2 separate regions of the Homo sapiens genome follow, and region 1 is linked to region 2. The links come from fine-mapping of genetic effects on gene expression. Tissue or cell type: fibroblasts. Region 2 holds a variant in brackets; the other region holds the start of a gene. All regions are shown on one strand. Distances are between the middles of the regions.

The links. PIP is the estimated chance that this variant, and not a neighbour inherited with it, causes the effect.
Region 1: it holds the start of UROS, and the variant in region 2 is fine-mapped to the expression of UROS in fibroblasts (GTEx, PIP 0.92).

The regions. Positions count from the first base shown.
Region 1 is chr10:125,819,867-125,827,973 of GRCh38, reverse strand. UROS (uroporphyrinogen III synthase) reads left to right here and starts at 4,716. Exons shown (of 10, transcript NM_000375.3): 1 at 4,716-4,945. It overlaps BCCIP (BRCA2 and CDKN1A interacting protein), which reads right to left and starts at 4,428. Exons shown (of 7, transcript NM_078468.3): 1 at 4,252-4,428; 2 at 1,309-1,383; 3 at 336-416. The coding sequence starts at 4,416. RefSeq lists silencers at 3,664-3,883, 4,640-5,069 and enhancers at 4,360-4,559, 4,103-4,788.
Region 2 is chr10:125,780,141-125,788,247 of GRCh38, reverse strand. It overlaps a transcript of UROS not described here. Among named protein-coding and RNA genes, the nearest start is that of MMP21, 8.4 kb to the right of the region's middle. RefSeq lists a silencer at 4,221-4,280. The variant A/G (reference allele first, on the strand shown) is at 4,158.

The DNA of each region.
Region 1 (8,107 bases), 40 kb before region 2:
TTTTTTCAGATATAGGGTCTTGCTGTGTTGCCCGGCTAGAGTGCAGCGGCACAAAGCTCACCATGGCCTTCAACTTCTTGGCTCAAGAGATCCTCCTACCTCAGCCACCTGGGTAAAAAGACTACAGGCATGTGCTACTATGCCCGGCTAATTTTTTGTTATTTTTTGTAGAGACAGAGTATTGCTATATTGCCCAGGATGGTCTTGAACTCCTGGCCTCAAGCAATCCTCCCACCTTTGCTTCCCAAAGTGCTGGGATTACAAGCATGGTGAGGCCCAGCATGAACAGAATAAAGAACTCATTTAATCAGAATAAACACAATTATCCTACTTACCTTAATCACACTCCCAATATGGTTCTGTTGAATTAAGAGATCTGTTAGTTCTGCAGTGTTCACAGGAGCCTTTAGAAAAAGCTAAAAGGAGGAAAAAATTATTTTAAATTAAGATCAAAGCATGATTTCTAATAACTTCAAATCCTATATTCAAATACAAACAATGAAATTTCTGTGACTTAAGATGATGATCTAGAAAAGCAACCCCAAGAGGGAAAGAAAAGCCCAGGAGAGTCAAAGAAGCTAAAGATTAGGAAATTTCAGAAAAGAAGAAGTCAGTAGTAATATAGAAGTAATGGGGGAGGGGGAGAAAAAAGGGAGAAACGAGAGAGGATAAACTTAAGGCCAAAGAATTTGGTGAAAAAGACGGTAGAGCTATAAAGGCTAAAGAACCAAAGTCATATTATATGAGTAAAAGAATAAGGAGAAGCAGCAAGCATCAATTTTATAGCACCAAACAGCACAGTTATATGACTGTTACATAAGAATTGTGAATTAAAAAAAAAAACAAAATAACTCTAATTAGCAGATGAAAGGAAATAATTCTTCCTTCCAGGCAAGGTGGAGAGGATAGAAATGGAAATTCTAAAAAGATGAACTTGGGAGAGCCTGTATTGAATGACCTGAATTTTCTTTTTTTTTAGAGACAGAGGCTCACTCTGTTGCCCAGACTGGAGCTCAATGGCACATTCATAGCTGCAGCCTTGAGCTCTTAGACTCAAGTAATCCTCCAGCCTCAGCCTCCTGAGGAGTTAGGACTAACGGTGTGTGCTACCACAGTTGGCTAATTTTTAATTTTTTTGTAGAGACAGGTTCTCATTATGTTGCCCAGGCTGGTCTCAAACTCCTGGGCTCAAGCAATCCTCTCACCTCGGCCTTCCAAAATGCTGAGATTATAGGCATGAACCACTGCACCCGGCCCCTGATTTTTCTTAGAAGAGGAAATTTATGCATAATAAATAAAAGACAATACCTGCTGCAGTAATTTCTTAATTCCGTCATAATCATTATCTGATAGGGAATAAGCTTCAAATTCAATATTCACTTCCTGTAAATAACACACAAAATAGTTGTTACCAGAAAAACTACAAACATCTAGACTTTAAAACAGGCAAACATTGCCAAGATTGCCATCTGTGAAGAATACAAAGCACCTTCACACTATTTCTTCAGGTGACACAAAAGCCTGAGAAAACAAAACACTCAGAGTAACCTAGTTTAAATGTTGAGAAAGTCCAGTTCAAATAAACCAGACACGGCAGCCACAAAGGATAAATTATTTTCCTGATTACAAGGGTGGGCAAAAATCAAAATCACTTCAAAAGTCCCTGGAATTGCCTAGAGCTTGACTTAGCCCATGGATTTGAGGTTACACTACATTTGCTTAGCAAATATTTATTAAGTATCAATCCAGGTACCAAGCACTGTGCCAGGCACTCAAGATGAAAAGGTTAGTAAGGCAGACACAAATGATCCTGCTCTCGTGCAGCTTACGATTTAGGAAGGAATATAGGCATTAAGGAAATATTCATAGAAATAAATGTAAGTGCTATAAAACAAAGGTACACAATGTTGTAACAACTTAAAAAATAAGAAGTCAGTCAGGAAAGCCTTCCTTGAAGTGACATTTGAGCAAGAAACCGAGAAACAGCAAAGAGAGTTCCTGGTACAGGGAACAGCACAAACTAAGGCCCTAAGGCAGAAGGAAATACAATGAGTACAAGGGACTAGAAGAATGAATGTGTAGCTGGGCTCCCTGATCTCTATCTGCAAGACAACAGAATCTAGAAGATGGAACTAAAATGCCAAAAACAAAACCTAGTTGCTTTTAAACACTAACAAGATTAGTCCTTGAGGACCCTAAATCAGACCTTGATAAGTGACACAATGAACCTGGGGCTCTGATGAAATAATATATTTAAAGGCACTTCAGGTTTTAACGGTTTCAGAATTTAGGTCTTAGCTGAAGAACATCGCAGAGGAAATCAGACCTCCTTTTACCTTGCCACCCTGACTATGTATATATTTAAGTCTTCCTTAATTGTAAAATTGCAAGGCCCTGGAATTGCTTAGAGCAATTCCAGCTCCAATTTGAACTCTTTAAGTCCAGCTTTGCAGACTTCAAATGCTAACTTAGCCAGATTATGTGAGCAGCAAAACACAAGGGGTCGGGTGGGAGTGTTCCAAACAGGATCAAACTAAACCAAATAACAAACTGTCATTATTCAGGACTTAAACTTATTCCTTAGATATAAATACATTCTGTAAATAATGCTCATCTAGTGTTTTTTTCTTTGTCTAGACAGACATCTCGGACCTCTGTCCCAGACTATTATGGCACCACCAGGGAAATGGGCGGCAAATGGATTATCTGTCCAGCACCCTTTTCCTGGGTATGGGCTCATCTCCACATGGCTTCAGCAGGAACAGTCACGTTTGTAGAAAAGAGCCCTGTCCCTCATTCCCAGGTGATTTAGAATTAAGACTGTGGTGGTGTGATAGATTTCCCATGTTAACACAAGCAGCATTGATTTCTATAACCCAAAAGTAATAAAAGAGCCAGTCAAAGTTCTAAGTGAAAAATGGTGAGATGGCATTCAAGGCATAGAGCCAAAGTAAAATTTGTAAGGGAAGGAAGATTGATCACATACCCACACCATGGTGTCACCTCTAATCCTGCATCCATGCTTCTCTCCATGCTCCCCTCCATGCTCATCATGACTCATGATTACCTCTCTGATTTTATTTCCTATCACTCTCTCTTCCTTATTCTGATCCAGCCATCTAGGCTGCCTTTCCGTCCCTCAATTGTGAAGACTCTTGATTTTCTTGTAAATGAACTAGAAAGCCAATGCAGCAATCTAAGCAGAGGCCTGAGATCAGACCTATAAGATCTCTCTGACTGTAAGTGGAGTATAGACTGATTGTAGGGGAACAAAAATGGAGAAAAGAACGCCGGTTAAAAGCTGTTACATTAAATAGTAGTCCAGGCAAGAGATGATAGAGGTGTGGACTACGATGGTCTCAGAATTAGTGCTGAGAAATGTCTGGATAACAGGATTTACTGATGGGCTGGATATAGGATGAGGAAAGGGAGGAATTAAAGTTAAGCCCCAGGTTTTGGGTTAGAGCAGCTGGTGACTTTAGGGGCCATTTATAGAAATGGTGACGATTAAGAGAGGGGCATGAATTATTATACAAATTCTGCTTTGGACAAGTTAAGGCTGAGGTATCTATTTAAACATTCAGTAGGCTGAAGGATCATTCAGTCCTAATTGTTTACTAAACAAATAATAAGTACCTATATTGCCAGGCACTACGGTAGGACCTAGTCTGAAGAAAGGAACACAGTTCTATGAGACTATGAAACCAAAGATTTACCCACGACTTGGTCAGCTGCCCCAGGAGCCAGAAAATACAGCCTAGCTGAGATCTGAAGAAGGAAGGGAAAACTGCAGGATAAAGAAGAGCATTTGAAAAGGCTTCTACGGTAGAACGCGGCAAGAGCCTTCAAGAAACTGAGGGCCCAAGTGAGTGCCGCCCGCAGAGTGAAGAGGAGGACAGCTGCTGCCCCGAGGGGAGAGGGCCCCCTCTGCGAGCCCGGGGTGGCCGATTCAGGATCTGAGGCTTCAGCCTGAGAACTAAAGAGGACGAGAAGAACACACCTGTTGTGGCGGGCTTTTTCGGGGAGGACGCGGGTTGGGAGATTAACTGGACCGGACTAGACCTTTAAAAAATAACTACTATGGCTGCAGTGTGTTAAAGACCGAGGAGAAACCTGAGAAAGAACTTATCTCCAGTTTCTCCTCACAGACCCTCAGGGTCAGGGAAGACCCTACACTATTTTTACACAGCCTGGGCTTGCCAAAAAGTTTTTCTCAGGTATAAACCAACTAGGGGAGCGTGTCCTTCTCACCTCGTCAATGACCTCGTCCTCTTCATCCTTTTCCTTGTCACTGTCATCATCGTCTTCATCCTCATTTTCGACTTCTTTTTCCTCTTCCTCGTCGCGCTGGACTGGGGGATCCGGCGGCTGCGGAACCCCACTTTCCACGGCACGCCGCTTAGACCTGGACGCCATGTTGCCGCTCACACTGCGCCTGCGCAGCTTCCCCTTGCCTGACCTTCCGGACCAGCCCATAGTAGCCAAGGGGGTGAGGAACTACGAAGAAGCTCGGCGCTGAGTGCACGTCAACCCCAATGCCCCTGCTGGATTCCGCAGCCATGACCCCTTACAGTCACGTCCAGCTTGCGGTCCCATCTTGCTTTTTTCTTCCGCTTTCCACCCTCCATCACTCCTCCCAAAGCTTCCCCTCCCCTTCCCGTAGTGGTTCAACCCATCTAACCTCTGGCCTCATTCCGTGGCCTGGATGGCGGTGCGCATGCGCGAGCGCCTAGCTGCGCGCAGCCACCCACGCGACCCCAGTCTGAGGTGCGGGGTCCTGGGGCCCGGCGCGGGTGGCCGCCGCGGCCCCTCGGGCTGCGTGGGGAGGGGGCTTCCGCCCCTGTTGTCATTGCTCCTGCAGCCTTTTCGCTGGGACTGCGCGACACCGCCCCCCGACCGGGTGCCCGCTGTGTGCCAGGCCGGGTGCTGGGCACGGTCCCGCGAGGTAGGTGTCGCCGCCCGCTGTACCGGTACGGACGCCGAAGCCCGCGGGCGTGCAGGGGCCCGGCCCCGGGCGGTGTGTGACACAGTGGGGCCAGGGCCCCGAGGCTTCCGCGGACCTGGGCCTGCCCAGGCGGGGATGTCCGCTGCCGCTACCGCTGCGCCGGTGACGGAAGGCGCCTGCCCAGCCTACCCTCGCCGAGCTTCTGGAGCGCATTTCTTGACCTAAAAGTTTTTTTAAAGCCGGCACCGCAGTTAAAAATGCTTCGGCGGGGGGCCGGGCCCGGTGTCTCGCGCCTGTAATCCCAGCACTTAGGGAGGTCAAAGCGGGTGGATCACCAGAGGTCAGGAGTTCGAGACCAGCCTGGCCAACATGGCAAAACCTCATCTCTGCTAAAAGTACAAAAATTAGCCGGGCGTGGTGGCGGACACCTGTAATCCCAGCACTTTGGGAGGCCGAGATGGGTGGATCACTTGAGGTCAGGAGTTCGAGACCAGCCTGCCCAACATGGCGAAATCCCATCTCTACTAAAAATACAAAAACTAGCCAGGTGTGGTGGTGCGCGCCTGTAGTCCCAGCTACTCAGGAGGCTAAGGCAGGAGAATCGCATGCCCCCAGGAGACGGAGGTTGCAGTGAGCCGAGATCGCGCCACCGCACTCCACACTCCAGCCTGGGCGACAGAGGTAGACCCTATCTAAAAAAAAAAAAAAATGCTTCGGGGCCAGTGGGGTAGTCTAGGTTAAAGACCCGAGCCTATTTGGAGAGAAGAGTGGAGGGGACTGCGGCCAACTGCAGAGCGAGCGCCAGCCCCTGTGGCAGGTGGGGATGCAGCCTGGGGCAGCCAGGTCTTCCCATTGCGAGAGAAACAGGGTTCATCAGCTTTCTAGGAATAAGATCTGCGGTTCTCAATTGATTTTTCTCTGTAAAATGAGGGGGGTGGGTTGGATATGTTTGATTCTAGGAATGGTGTGAGCTGCGCTAATAGGCTGCTTCTGTTTAAGCAGGGTAACATCTGATAAATCAGTGATCCTTCATCAGTACGAGATGGCGTGCCCTAAAGGTCCCCAGGAGCCCAGATTGCCCATAATCGTGTTCTGTGATTTCGGTCTTTCCTGGGAGTCTCTTGTCTACCCAGCCATGTCATGGATATTAAAGTAATACTTACACATCAGCGCTCCACATCTGATGGGGCAGCTTGAAATGGCCTCTTTGGGTCGCACAACTGCAAAAACATGTTCCTGTAATGGAGAAGAGAGGAAGCTGTCAAAAAAGACCCATCAAAAGGCTAAGATTAGAAAAAAGACTCAGAAAGACCATGTGAACATATCAACAGAGTTGCACTGAGATACCATAGCCAATTTTTTTTCCTGTTTCTTTATACTTTTTTTATGGTGGTAAAAGATACATAACATACATTTTACCATCTTAACTATTTTTAAAGATACAGTTCAGTGGCATGAAGTGCATTCACATTGTGCAACCATCACCACCACTATCCATTGGCAGAACTCTTTTCATCTAGCAAAATTGAAACTGTAGTTAAACAACTCCCTTATTTTCCCTCCATGACCTTTCTACTTTCCATCTTTATTAATTTGACTATTCTAGAAACCTCATGTAAGTGGAGTAACACAATATTCTTCCTTTTGTGACTATTTCATTCAGCATGATGTCTTCAAAGTTTATCCCATGCTGTAGCATGCATTAGGATTTCCTTCCTTGTTAAGGCTGAATAATACTCCATTGCATGTATAGACCACATTTTGTTTATCTACTTATCTGTCGGTAAACATTTTGGTTACTTCTACATTTTAGCTGTTGTAAATAATGTTGCTATGAACATGAGTATCAAATATCTGTTCGAGTCCCTGCTTTCAATTCTTTGGGGTATATATGTAGCAGGGGAATTGCTAGATCATATGGTAATTCTATGTTTATTTTTTTGAGGAACTATACTTTTTTGTAGTTTGCAAATCTTTCACAGTAAACAGGATCACTTTTGTAAGACAAGTAGGGGAAAAAGCCTTACTTTATGCCCTCAGATTAGTTCCCAGTGTTGAGCTCATGGTCAAAGTGTGAATTAGAATAGTGAATGTGAAAGTAAATACAGTACTGACCCTAGGGAACTGAACTCAGCAGGTAGTAGATTGCTTACCACTCGTTCAGTGTTCATCTTTAGCTCAGAATTTATCTTAATGAGGCAGAGGGATGGTAGCAAGTGGTTAGGAGACTGAGCATGGGCTTCAGACCAGGATCCAAATTCCATCTCTCCCACTTACTGTGCTGTGTGACCTGGGACAAGTTACTCAAACCTCCCAGGGACTTGGTTTCACCTCCTGCAAATAAGGCTAACACCACCTACCTTGCAGGTTTAAGTGAGGATTGCAGTCTTGCATGTAAAATGCTTAGCCCAGTGTGATAGTTACTTTTACATGTCATCTTGACTGGATCACGGATGCCCAGATATCTGGTTAAACATTATTTCTTGGTGTGTCTGTGAAGTTGTTTTCAGAAAAGATGAGCATTTGAATGGATAGACTGAGTAAAGTGGATTGCCCTCCCCAAAGTAGGTGGGCAGCATCCAGTCTGTTGAGGGCCTAAATAGAACAAAAAGCCAAAGAAGGAAGAATGTGTCCTGTCTCCTCCTGCATGCTTGATCTGGGATATCTTCTGCCCTTGGTGCTCCTGGTGCTGAGGCCTTCACACTCAGGCTGGAACCTACACCCTTGGCTCTCAGGCCTTCAGGCTACAACACCAGCCTTCCTGCTAACAAGTCTCCAGCTTGCAGACAGCAGATCATGGGACTTCTCAGCCTCCATAACTGCATGAGCTAATACCTTATAACAAATCCCTTTCTAGATGTAAATATATGCCATTGGTTCTGTTTCTCTGAAGAACTCTAATACACCCAGTAATTAACATGAGTAAATGCTCAGTAAAAGGGTGACTGTTGTTATTGCTGATACCCAGAACACCATGACATAGAAGGTACGGGTTTGAGGTTTGGTTCTTTCTTACCAGTAAGGTGCCCTTATTCCAGTCATTTTTTTTTTCTTTTCTTTTTCATCAATGATTGATGAACATAAGTATGAGGGTAAAATGGCAGAGCAAGCATTAGACTGTAAATCTAGAGACAGGTTGAGCCCTCTTTTTACCAGTGCCGA
Region 2 (8,107 bases):
GGCTTTGGAAATCTGTTCCCAAACTTCATTCCCAAAGTTCCCAAACTTCATTCCCAACTCAGCCTGAAGTTTAGGCTAAGTTGACTGAAACCCAGACTTGTCTCTTAGTAGCATGTGGGCTGGTGGTGGGAAGGCTCTGCCCACACACCTCTGTCTCCTTGAAAGATCTGGCTGAAAGGCATTTGGGCTCCCCGTCTCTGATCTCCATTCCTCATAACCCTGAGGAGTGGACATTCCTATTGTTCCATTTTTCTGGTGAGGAAACAGACTCTGGTGAGGTGAAATGATTTGTCAGGGTCACATGCTAGTGAGTGGCAGAACCAGAACAAAATTAAAAGGCATGGACGAGCATAAGCACTGAGGCCTAGACTAATGAAATTCATCAGCCACCTCGTAGGAGATTCACACTAGTTGAGAGGTTAGAATTTGGTGATGATTGTTCTCCAAATCTTGATGTGAGTATACAGAAATTCTTTGAGAACTGTTCTAAAACGGGATTATGGTGATGGTTCCATGAAGTGACCACTTGTGTCAAGATTAAGGAAAATAATTGGGCAAGCACTGTTTCATACACGTTTTCACCATAGTACCAAAGTGAAATAGATTTGCCCAGGAACTAAGAACCTGGCTATACATCAGAACCACGTAATGTGCTTCTAAAATGAAGTAGCTCAGGCCCCACCCCCAGAGAGTCCCCTGAATTGGTTTCTAGAATAAAGCCCAAGCAGCAGGAGGTGTTAGACGCTCTCCAGGTGCCTCCAGTGTGCACCCGTGTTTGGAAACTGCTGGATTGCAGGAATGGGGTCCCCCATAGCTGGAGTGTGATCAGGAATGCCCTCATGCATGGTGAAGAGGCTGGAGAAGCAAGACAAGCCCGGAAGTGAGGAAGGAGGAGGAGAAGTCCAAGCTGTAGGCAGACAAGAGCGGGAGGGATGTGTGGGCTTCGGAAGCACACATTGAAGGAGGAGGAAAAACACCCTGTTGCAGGGCAGGGAAAATAGGTTCCTTTTCAGAGCCTCGGGGTAGGGGACAGAATCGGGGACAAAGGTTCACTAAATGTCTACATGCTAGTAAACACCACACGTGTGTCCTTTCATCCCCACACAACCCGAAGCCACCTTTTGAAGAGATGTGAGGCTATTAACAGTTCTGGCGAAGCCTTGTTTCAGATGGAGTGCGCCAGGGCGTGGTTAAAGATGGTTCTGTTTGGGATCAGGAAGGCAGGGAGCTCATACGGGGCGGGAGATGAGCAAAGCAGCAGGCGCAGTGTCCTCGACGATTGCGTGAGTCGGGAGCCTGGGCTTGCTTTGGCAATTGGGCTGGAGATTCCTGAGAACGTGAAGGCTGAGTAGGCAAAAGCCAGTTTGAAAGGGACTGTGGAGAAACCCTGGTTCTGAAGGTATTGGTGGGACAGAAGGTAAGATCTGTAATTACTCAGCTCAAGAAAGTGAAGCCCAGGGATGTCACACCTCATTTCTTCTGCTCACCCTCCCACGGGACTGCAGTTTCTGTTAAGGGCAATAATTATGTTAATCATTCTATGGCTCAGTGGCTAGATGGGAGTGAACAGAAGCTGGCATAAGGCTTTTCTTCAAAGATACAACTGCAGCATTAAACAGACCATCTGATCTCCCAGGAATCTGAGGGTCTGGGAGGTCAGTATTTTCTTAGAAGAGGTTCATGTGGCCAGGCGCGGTGGCTCACACCTGTAATCCCAGCACTGTGGGAGGCTGAGGCGGGCGGATCAGGAGTTCAAGACCAGCCTGACCAACATGGTGAAACCCCATCTCTACTAAAAATATAGAATTAGCCAGATGTGGAGGGTGCCTATAATCCCAGCTACTTGGGAGGCTGAGGCAGGAGAATTGCTTGAAGCCAGGAGTTGGAGGTTGCAGTGAGCTGAGATCGTGCCACTGCACTCCAGCCTGGGCAACAAGAGCAAAACTCTGTCTAAAAAAAAAAAAAAAAAGGTTCATGTGCAAATGTACAGCCCTATAGAAAGGCCTTGGAAATCTGTTCCCAAACTTCATTCCTACTTTTTAATAGATCCAGCTATTCCTGATGTGCTGGGAGAGGTTCAGCTTTGAGTTCGTAGATGTTCTAGGTGCCGGATTCCCAGAGTCAATGTGGGAAGCCGGGTGGAAGCCAGAGTCTCACTCGACACCCTGAGTGGCAGTAGGGCCACCCAGGACGGTGAGTGAGTCGCACCCCCCACCCTGCCAGCTCCAAACAGAGTAACGCCCCAGCAGGCTGGGTGGCCAGCCTCCTTGTGTCCTTCCTGGGGATCAGAAGGGACAGAAGGGTGGGGTGGGAGAAGACGCTCAACAGATGTGCTGCACAGGGTTTTGCCACAGTTGTGTGATCTACATTCCCTTTTTGCATCTGCTCTCACGTGCCTTCCCCTCCAGCTCCTGGATGGAGGAGAGTTGCTGAAGAAGTTCATGCAGGGAAGGAATAAAGGATCACACAGGAATTTGAGAGCCAAAGTAAAGTGCAACTGGCCCCCCAGGCCCAGAGGGGCTAGCAGTGAGAACTGAAGATGTTCCCTCTGGACCTTCCGGCCACAGCTCATTGATGGGACATGTTCTCAGACAGTGTTGTAAGTTTTGTGTGCTTTAACTCATGAGTTACACGTGGTCACTCACTTAATGAGTTAAGCGTTAATACAACTTCCCTGTGAATAGAAGGTAACAAAATAAAAACATTGTGTTGTATACAAGTCTTCAGAAAATAAGCTACCAAGAATCATTTTACTAAAAATTCTAAGGAAGTAGATGACAGGGATAGAGTCAGTGAGGTGGTCTCAATATTCATTACTCTGGAACAAGAATCCTTGATATTCAGCAAAGTACGTGGTCATTTGGAATAAGAACTACATTTCCCAGCTTCCTTCGCAGGCAGGCATGAGAGTGTGATTAAGTTGTAGCCAAGGGGATGTAGTGAGATGCACACCTCTGACATCATTCTTCCTTCTTCCTGAAATACAGATCGAAGAGCTGGAGCTCCAGTGGGCATCTTGGGCCCTGAGATGACATTGGGGAAAGAAAGTTTTCTGGAACAAGGTGACACTGTGGGCACAAAAACTATCCCAACTCTAGACTTCTTGAGTGTAAAAGACATATCGACTTCTATCTTGTTTAAGCCACTATTACTACGAGATTTTTTCTTTTACAATCAAATCTAAATGATAAAATAATCAAGTGAATTGGTAGAGTAAACATCAAGATAAACCGTTTCCGAGTTTGAATAAAATGCCCTTTTAAGAAAATCTTGGCCTGGTGCAGTGGCTCATGCCTGTAATCCCAGCACTTCAAGAGGCCGAGGCGGGTGGATCGCTTCGAGATCAGCCTGGCTGACATGGCGAAACCCCATCTCTACTAAAAATTCAGAAACTTAGCTGGGTATGGTGGTGCACATATGTAATCCCAGCTATTCAGGAGGCTGAGACAGGAGAATTGCTTGAACTTGGGAGGCGGAGGTTGCAGTGAGCCAAGATGGCGCCACTGCACTCTAGCCTGGGTGACAGAGCGAGACTCCATCTCAAAAAAAAAAAAAAAAAAAGAAAAGTTTGGTTACTAGAAGTCCCTCATATACTTACTGTTGAATCTTTTTATCAAGTTCAATTTTAAGCTGTGTATTTGCATATTATTTATAGATTTATGCCTTGTGCAATTATATAAAGTGTTTGAAAAGCAACTGAAACAACAAAAAGACTTCAGCAGCAGAATTCTCATTTTCACAAAATACTGATAAAACCTACAAAAGCTGCAGGAATGCATTTGCTTGGACAGTTTCTTTCGTTCTTACTGGTAAGCACCCTACTGCTTGGAAGGTATGCACAGTGCTTACAGGAGAAATGTAGTCTTTTATCATATTTATCTCTTGTTAAAAGAAAACCTTAGACAAATTACATTTGAGAGAGTTTAATTGAGCAAAGAATGATTTGCGAATGGGGCAGCCCCTAAACCAGAAAGGTTCAGAGAGGCTGGGGCGCTGCCTCGTGGTTGAAGATTTATGGACAGTAAAGGGAAAGTGACGTACAGAAAATGGAAGTGAGATGCAGAAACAGCTGAATTGGTTACATCTCGGCATTTGCCTTATTTGAACAGGGTTTGAGCAGTTGGCCACCTCTGATTGGCTGAAATTCAGTGATTGGT[A/G]CAAGAGTAGGTTACAGCCTGTTTACACATCTAGGACAGAGCCCAAGCTGTATCCTACAAACAGGCTGTAACCTACTCTTGTACCCATAGCTGTAACTATTTAGGTTACAGTTCACTGTATACGGAGAATTCTTTAGGCTGAACTTAAAACATGTAAGGAGGCAGCTTTAGGCTAAACTTAACACTCTGAATTAAAAGAGACTTAAACATTTCCCCTCAACATCTCATTTAATCCTCAAAATAGCCCTATCAGGTGGGTCCTATTACCTGCATTTTGGGGACAAGAAAAACTGGACTTGGAGGAATTTAATGCCATACACAAGGTTAAGTGAGGTGGAGGCAGATTGAAACTTTGCTGACCAAGGGCTGAGAGAGAGTTAGATGAGAGAGTGTTCCCACGGGAACGCTGGAGTCCACCTCCCCTTGGCGGGGCTCCCCAGGACTGCAGGACGGGGGTCATGTTCCTCGGCATGGCCTCCAAGCCCCCTTTTCAGCCTGGCTTGACTGCCCACAGCCCGTGTGTATGCGCAGCTCCAAGCTGTGGTCACTCCACCTCTCTGACATTCTGAGACCTTGTTCTTCTCAGGGTGTTTGTGGGCTCCTGAGAGCTGGACCTGTGCTTGTCTCTGCTCCCTGAGCCCCTAGCAGAGGCCTAGGACTCATAGGTGTGGGGGGTAATGATCGGAATCCTGCCTTTACCATCAGCGATGCTTTTCCCAGATAAGCTTCTCCTCTCAGCCCCAGAAGCAAATCATGAGCAATATTATTTATTTCTCAGAACATTTTACACGGTGTTTGTTAATCACCGCATTAAGCTATTGACCCTCCAATGGGCTGTAGCAACACTTTTCTCAGTGGTGAACACATCTGGAGGCAGCAGCTCAAACTCTCTTAACGGATGGGAAACTGATGCTCCGACGACAGGGTAGAGACTCCTCAGCGTCAACCCGCTTTCGGCGGCAGGACAGAAACTGGGCCTGGGCCTGAGATGGTTCCTTCCTACACCCTTCTCCAGGGTACCGTGTCCACCTCTAAGCCTCTGGACCCTCTGACATGTAACCTGTGTCCCCTCCCCAAGCCAGCAGAGAGACCCAGGCGTGGTGCGGTTATGGAAAGAGCTGGTTCTTGTTCTCAGCCTGATGGGTCCCTCAGGGGCGGCGCATGTGTAGCAGCTTTTCAGGAGTATGGGGGGTGACGGGAGCCAGGGGCCACGTGGTGCAGATGGGAGAGAGGCCAGCAGATGGGTCTAGCAGCAGTGGGTTGAGCTTTGCCGTGTAACCTCGGCGACAGGGGCTTTAATCTGCATGGAAAATTCTGCATGCTTCACACTCATGGGGCCTGTCACCAAGCTGACTCACTGAGTTACTTTACTGAGTGTTCAGCGTGTGACTAAATTTCTGGACCTGGGGAGTTCGTAACTTTTTCCTCACCTCTCACCCAAACACCCCCAAGTCCTGTAAAAATTGCATTTCCAGAGACGGAAAGGAGTCCCACGTAACCAGCCAGATCCCATCTCTGAGCCAGGCCAGACCGCTTCCTCTTCCCTCTGCGTCTGGTCTGCTTCTGGGGTCCTCTCTCTCAATGTATTAGGGTTCTCCAGAGAAACAGAACCAATGGGATAGATGGACAGAGAGAGAGAGAGAGACAGACAGACAGACAGACAGACTAGGGGGCACTTAGGGGAATTGGCTCACATAATTCTGGAGGCCGAGGAGGCCAGCATCTGTGGGCCGCAAGCTGGAGACCCAGGAAAGCCAGTGCTTGCAGTTCAGCCTGAGCCTGGAGGCTGAGAGCCGGGGAGCTGGTGGTGTGACTTCCAGTCCGCGTCTGAAGAAGGCCTGGGGAGAAGGCAGTGCGAGAAGGCAGTGCTTCTGTAAGTCCTGGGCTCTGAGGGCCTGGGAACCTGGATAGACAGGATTCAAGGGACAAAGAAGATGAATGTCCCAGCTCAGGAAGTGGGAGGATTTGCCCTTCGTCGGCCTTTTCGTTCTCCTCGAGCCCTCAGTGGACTGGATGACTCCTGCCTGCGGGTGAGGCTGGCTCTTCTTTACTAATTTAAATGCTCATCTCTCGTAGAACACCCTCACAGACACACCCAGGAACAGTGTTTTACCAGGTCTGTGGCCATCCCTTGGCCCCGTCACACTGACATACAGAATTTACCATCGTGCTTGGGAAATCTCAGCTTCTCAACTGGTGTCATTGCTGTTGCCCTGGCAGCTGCCCTGAGAAGAGCTGGGTTTGACCAGCAGACTGCGGGCATCTCCTCATCAGAAGGCCCCACTCTCAGAGCAGAACCAGTTGGGAGCTTTCTGAGGGATACCACCAGCAACGATGAGCATAATTCTCATCCGGAGGCCAGGAGGCCTGGGTGTGCCTTGGCAGAGAAGTGCAGGTGGGTAGTGAGCGGGGCCTCCCTCCCGCAACCACTGAGCAGCCTCCATGTGCATCCTTTGCAGGGAGGAACAAGCCCCAAACGCAGACTCTCATGTGTGTAAAACACAAGCAGTTCTCCCCAGGGAGGCCGAGGGTCCTATGCCGGCCCAGAGATGGGGAAAAGGGTTTATTTGTGGATGAAAAGAGACCAAAATGCAGTCTGGAAAGAAGGGAATCAGGACAGACACTGGGAAGGGTCTTTCTGTCTCAGGCACGCTATGCAGCTGGAAACAACAGGCCTGCCCTGGTGCTGATGGCATCACTCCCCAGCACCTGGGCCCCCTGAGCTCTGCTCACTTTCAGAGTCAGAACTGACCCCTCATTGAACATAAGGCTCAAAGATCTCCTGTGGGAATGACTGTTTCCAAATATTATTGTCCAACTATACTAAGAATATGCAAATCCAGGCTGGGTGCAGTGGCTCATGCCTGTAATCCCAACACTTTGGGAGGCCGAGGTGGGCAGATTGCTTGAGCCCAGGAGTTCAAGACCAGCCTGGACAACATGGCAAAACCATACCTCTACAAAAACATACAAAAATTAGCTGGGCACGGTGGCTCACACCTGTAGTCCCAGCTACTTGCGGGAGGCTGAGGTGGGAAGATCACTTGAGCCAGAGAAGTCACGGCTGCAGTTGAGCTGTGACTGTGCCACTGCTCCTCAGCCTGGGTAACAAAGTGAGACCCTATCTCAAAAAAAAAAAAAAAAAAGCAAATCCACTTTGTAAATGATGAATGTTTTAGGGGAAAAAAACTTCAGTTCTCCCGCTGACAATTAGGTTACGCATGTCATGGCTTACAGAGATTGTAGAAGCTCCAAGCCAAAGCCTTGCCCCGCCTCAGGAACGGGAGGTGGTCTGCACAGACCAGGAACCAGTTTGTGCGGGAGCCCCTGTCCCTCATGTTGTCTTTATTGTAGGTCACGTGTCTTCCTCTGACATTTTCCCTCCTAAATCCAATTGATTTCCTTGAAATCCAATTAACCTGGAGTGAGCAATTTGGTTAATCAAACATTCTCAGCCTTGAGCAGCCAGTACATTCCAAAGCTTAGTAATAATCGGAGAGAAGAATCCTCCAAAAGAAGAGCAAACATCCACATGGTGAACATACTTCCCCAAGTCAAGCACCCAAGCTGCATGAGGCCACCGCACCATAAAGTTTCTTAAAGAATAATAACTTTAGGGAACAAGACCCTTCAGTAATGAAGCCCTCAAGCCTGTGATCTCTGTCTTAGTCCATTTGTGATGCTATACCAAAACACCTGAGACTGGGTCATTTATAAATAATAAAAATTTTCACAGTTCTGGAGGCTGGCAAGTCCAAGAGCAAGACTTGATGTCTGACGAGGGCCTGGTTTCTGTTGCCAGATGGTGCCTTGAACACTGTGTCCTCATATGGCAGACGGGCAAAGGGCTGAATGCTCTCTGAAGCCTGGCTTCTAAGGGCAGGATGGTAGAGCCTTATGATTCAATCACCTCCTCAAGGCCCCACCTCTTAATACGGTTGCACTGGGGA